Regions from separate parts of the Homo sapiens genome. Here region 1 is linked to region 2. Evidence: fine-mapped expression QTL. A gene starts in region 2. The other region holds a variant in brackets. All regions are shown on one strand. Distances are between the middles of the regions.

Region 1 (2,918 bases), 33 kb after region 2:
TTTAGTTACAGGGAGGAGATTAAAAGTAAAACCAAGAATGGAAGATTAGGAATTGATGTTAAATCTAAGACTGATTTTTTTTTAAAGTAAACAAATGTACAAAGTGGAAGAATTGTAAAGTTAGATAATCTTAGGACTGAAATAGAGATTGAAACATGATAATAGGTTAGAAAATGATGAAATTAGGAAAATAAGTCACACTTAAGGGCAACTGAGAGGAGAAGAAAAACTAACAAATTTGGGAGTGGAAAAATTGAAGAAAATAGTAAAAATTGGGGAAAGTTAGGGTATCAAAGGGAGGATGCTCTTGAAGGAAAAAGATAATAGTAAGCTGAGACTGCTTTGTATTGCCTAAGTTTGTATTTGGCCATTTGATTACAGGATGTTTCTAGGATTCTTCTAGCTTAAATTTTCCCCAGTATTATTAATCTTAGGTTATTAGTCATCATTTTCTATACTCCAGACTCCTAAGTAACTGGTCTCCCAAGCCTTTTGACTGAGAAAAGTATAAACCTCTGCTTTTGGTCTTGCATATTTGATAGAAGGAGCTTGTAGACCCAAGAGAAGCCTCAGAGAGTATCCCTGTGGTTTCCACCCAACTTCTCAGTGGCTGTTTCATTGTAGTTGACTTTGTAAATTCTTACTTGAAATGGAACTATCTTTTCATCACTTATGATATAGCTTTTTAAACAAATGTCCCTCAAAATATTTCTCTTTTTCTTAACATGCCAATCTCTAATTTTTCTACCTTTAAAAAAAAACAGATTTCAAATATGTATTATAGACTTGATTATTTTTCTTCTTTGACCTTAAAAGTACTAAAATATGCTTTTTGATAATTGGCTCTCATTTTTAGTTTATTTGCCTGAGTCTAGCTGTATTTTCCCAATTTTGGTTCTGAACTCATCCATGCATGTGGTACTCACCAAACAAATTGCTACTACCAGTTCTAGGGTTGCCAGTGCTTAAATGGATCAAAAAGTCATACTCAAAGTAATTAGCATCTTCCATAATTATAATATCTAGACTAGTGTCTTTAATCTTAATGTGAGAGTTTTTTATACTTTTAGAGAAAAATGTGTTCAAAGAATAATTTCATCAAGGAATATGGCAGTGAGATATATCTTTTGTTTCCTGCACCACCAAATTAATATCTAAGGTTTGCTATTGTGACAGGCTTTAAAGATCTCCCATTTCTCTGCTTTATTATTTTTCTGATTTAAAAAATAGGTCTACTTTCTGATATGGTGATAAAAAACATATAATAAGAGTCTGTGGGAGAGTAACCTAAGGTGCTATCTTATGTAAATTGGAAACATGACGATTTAGATAAATAAAAAAATTTTTTGGATGTTAAAAAAAGAATATCACAGACTTTAGGATATTAGAAAGAAACAGAATTGTCACCCAAGTTAGTTCCAATTTCATTTTTCAAGATCAAGTGCTAGAGAGAATTGAGTTTAAGAATAAATCAGTAATCAAGGGGAAGTAGATAGACTAAGAAAAATGAATAGTAATTAAATTGGGTTGAGTCTTCACAAATCACAAAAAAATGAACTAAAGGAGTAAAGAGATGAAGTGGAAAACAAAGATATCAGTGCATGTTCTCGCCAAAAACATAAAGATAGTTTTTATTGCGAGATGTTTAAGATATATCAAAACATTAAAACCTTCCCTCGTTTAGTTAAAAATTACTCCTTATTTTAAAAAAATAGGTAATAGCAGTCAGAAAACTTCAGAAACTCTAAAAAGGCCCATGAGTTTTCTTCAGAAATAAAATACAGAGACACAGGCAGCCAGTGAGTCAACAAATTTTTATTGGGTAATTAGTATTTTCCTGGTATTAGGGGA[A/G]CAATGAGGCATGTAACAGAGTTCCTGCTCTGAACTGTAGCTTTTCCATTTTAATATGATGGACATTGAAAAGATATGTAAATCTATAAACAGATAAAATAAATATAAGCAAGCTCTGAGATAGGAAAGTTTTCTTTCTTGGATTGGATATGTAGAAGAGTGAGTATATTCAGGAGGATTGGAGAGAATTGACATTGAGTCAGAATCATGATGCCAGTTTTAATCTTAAAACACATGAGAGAGAATAAGGGTGACATTACGGTTAAGCTGCTCTGTGAGAGGGTTGTGTTCTGAAGGATTTTAAGAACATGAAACTCTTTAGCTTGACAGACATAATGAAGTCTAAGGGAACTAATCCACCTTCCTCTTTTCCAGTGACTCGTCAAAAATCTGCATAATGGAAAATTGCAAGGGGTTTTTCCTGATCTACTTTGAAATGCAATTCCGCTTAAAGGTATAACTTTGCCATGAGTAATCAGACTTCCTGTTCTAATGTCCACATTCCTATTCAGCTTGTTCTCTGTTATGAATTCCATGTAAGTCCTGCTGCTTCAACTGGAGACCCTAAATAAGCATTTCAAACTTAATAGGCTGAAATGACACTGTAGTCTGAATTCTAAGTAAATTATGAAATAGGCAAAAGAATCAGGAAGCAATCTAAACACTCACTTTATTACTGGTAAAGCTGTACTGAAACATGTGAATTGGATTTAAAGCCAAAAAGCATTTCCTACTATGCCCAAACCCAAGTCTAAAATAGAAACCCTTTTTGGGAGAATTGTATAGGCTGCCTGAGGGGGAAAAAAGAAGTCCTTCCTCTCACTTCCTTGAGAAAAGCAACACTTGAATACTGGCCTTTGATTAATTAATTCTCTCCAGTGGAAATAATGAGAACATTTGACCCTATATAAAGTGTTTTGGATATTGTGAGAAATGAAGAAATAGGAAACATGTTGGACTTGTTAATGGAAATTCCTTCTGGGTGAATTGAAGGAGTATAGGGAGAAGAGAAAATGGTTTCTATCATGCTCATTGCCTTCTTTTTGAATCAGTTGAAGTAAAATTTG
Region 2 (2,918 bases):
TAGCCCAGTGAGGGAACTCAGATCCTAAGTAGGGTAAGATGGACATTATTGCTGGGGGATGGAGGACCTGCATGGAGTGTCAGAGCCCAAGCAGGATGAAGAAAGCTTCTATGCAGAGGGAGGACTTGGTGTGGGTTTCAGAAACTTAGCAGGATAAGGAGGTGGTCCATGTGGTAGGATAGCCCGGTGAGGAAATCAGACCCCTCCAGGGTGAGGAGGGCTTCCACCCATAGGGTGACCTTGTGTGGAGCATTAGAACCTAAGGGGGTCTAAGTGGTGACTAGGGGACCAGCATCAGGAATCAGAGTGCAAGCAGAGTGAGGAGGGCTTTCCTGCAGAGGAATGGCCTAGCACAGGGAGTCAGAGCCTTGGCAGGGTGAGGGGGATGTTTGTTGGGGGATGTTCATGGGGGTGGGGAGTGGGCTGGCCCTTTGCCGGCACTCTCAGAGTGAGGAGGGAGGGCATCCGCGCAGGGGATGGTGGCTTGGACTGGGGAGTCAGAGCCCAACTAGGAAGAGAGGGACATCTTAGCAGGTGGGAGATTGACGACATCCAGGAGATTGATCAAATAAGGAATAAGTGAAAGACAATGAAAGCAGGTTTCTTAGTGTCACAGAAAGGAGTTAGGAATGTGGGAAGGGAGAAAACTAGAATGAAACTTGTGGTGTTAGATTGGAATTAGAGGAATTAGTGTGAACTCATGGTGTTCAATATATTTAGATATAGAAATAATATAGAAATATAGACGTGTGTGTTTGTGTGTGTGTGCATGCATGTATGCATGTGTGTTATGCAGGAGAAGGAATCAGCTGGGGGAGATTAAAAGGAGGATCATTTGCGGAGAGTTGAGGGCAGAGAATCCAGGTGTGAGCTGGGAGCATGTCTATGGAGAGATTCCACATGAAGGATTTAATATTTGGAGTGTTTTCTTCTAGGCCTTTGGAAAAAGTCATATTTAGTACTTTGTTTAAGTTTATCCCCTTCTATACTGTGATTCTATATAATTCTCCTAACTGTTAAAAAATAGTCATATATATTGGAGGTGATGTGGCGATTAAAAGGTTAGGGAAGCATGGAATAAAGGCTGGCCTTCCCTCTCCTCCAACATCCAGTAAAGGGAGCTGCTTTCTGGAGATTCTAGCAAGATGAATGCAGACTTTTGATAGAGTTAGTTACCAACAAGGAAACACAGAGAGCATGGAGGAACAGCTTCAGAAGACATGGGGTTTAAACTTTGCCATCCCCACCATGCTACAGGAAACTAATTCGTGAAGGTGGGGAGGCTGATATGTGAGTTTTGTGTCAATGATACTCTTAGAATGTGGTACTAACAAGTTGCCTGATCAGTCAAAATTGATGAGATGAATGCAACATAAGTCTATGTTCAGGATGTTTGGTCAAAAGTAATTACATTTGTGTGTGGAAGCACAGAAATTGTATTTTTTACTGGTGAAAAACGCAGTTCTCCAGAAAGACTCTAAGTGCTTGGTTCTTCTTTTATTTTTCTTCCTCTTTCCGCAACCCTTTGAGTTCCCACTTTTATTGCATTTGCTTGCATTTGTTTCAAGGCTGTGATTCTCACTATACTGGTCCTGAGGAAAGGGCTTCTGTGAACTGCGGTTTTTAGTTTTTATTGTGGTTCTTAGTTCTCATGAGACCCCTCTTGAGGATATGTGCCTATCTGGTGCCTCTGCTCTCCACTAGTTGAGTGAAAGGAAGGAGGTAATTTACCACCATGTTTGGTTCCTGTTTATAAGATGTTTTAAGAAAGATCTGAAACAGATTTTCTGAAGAAAGCAGAAGCTCTCTTCCCATTATGACTTCGGAAATCACTTATGCTGAAGTGAGGTTCAAAAATGAATTCAAGTCCTCAGGCATCAACACAGCCTCTTCTGCAGGTAAAGATCATTTTCTAGGGGTCAGAGTGAATGACGAGGTGAAGGATGAGGAGAGGGTTTATGAATAAGGCATAGGTGTTTTCAGTTGCTGGTTGTCTGATTGAGTATGTCTGGGAAACACAAGAGTCCCAGAAGATTGAGTGGCCTGCAGATACGCATTACGGGGTGTACATTTGTATTGTGGAGAAGAAAAGATTTTGTGCCACTCTCTTCAGCCTCCACTCTGCTTACTGAAACAGAGGTGAGAGAAATCCACTCCAGTTCTGAGCTAAGGCGAGTGCTCTGATGCCCCTGTGTTTTCTGAGGCTGAGTGGGGCTGGGGTTAAGAGATTGAGTACAGCTTCTGAAACCATCAATCCAGATGCAGGGGGTCCTGATGAATTTGTGAGATTTGTTTTTTGATCAGTTAGAGGGAAAGAGTTTGGGTGGACAGTGGTGAGGGTATATTTGTTGGTAATGGATGGAAATGTAACAAAAGGCCTTTGCAAATGAAAGACTAGAAAGTCTACAAAGAAAGTCTCTTAAATCTCCAGGAAACTTTTTCTGAAATCAGAGAACCTATTGCGTGTTGCATCTCTGAGACAGACTCTGTTACGTTTGGGAGTAGATGCAAGGTGATTTGGGTGTCATGTGTGATATCTCAAGTATAGAGCAAAAGAGAGAAAAGAATGTATATAGAGTACAAGAAACTATGGGGGAAGGGGTCAGGACTATAGTTACGCTTTCTAAAATACCTCTGTGAAGGTGTGGAGAGCACTTAGGGAAATTTTTTCTCCTTAAAAACTTTATATAATTTCTTTATTACACAAGTATTAATGTTCATTGTAGAAAAAATTAACCAGAGGTACACAGATATTTGAATTATAATTACTCTTATCATCTAGAGAAAATCATAATTTGCAATTTAGTGAATATCCTTCCACATACAAATACATATAATGTGCATATGTATTTTACTAAAAATGTAATCATATTATATAATACTGAATTTTTTTCCCCCATCATTTGACAAAATATCAT

Evidence for each region. PIP is the estimated chance that this variant, and not a neighbour inherited with it, causes the effect.
Region 1: its variant is fine-mapped to the expression of CLEC4A in whole blood (TOPMed, PIP 0.99).

Annotation. Positions count from the first base shown.
Region 1 is chr12:8,154,788-8,157,705 of GRCh38, forward strand. It overlaps ZNF705A (zinc finger protein 705A), which reads left to right and starts at 2,228. Exons shown (of 6, transcript NM_001004328.3): 1 at 2,228-2,305. The variant A/G (reference allele first, on the strand shown) is at 1,852.
Region 2 is chr12:8,122,063-8,124,980 of GRCh38, forward strand. CLEC4A (C-type lectin domain family 4 member A) reads left to right here and starts at 1,555. Exons shown (of 6, transcript NM_016184.4): 1 at 1,555-1,898. The coding sequence starts at 1,817. RefSeq lists an enhancer at 1,425-1,474.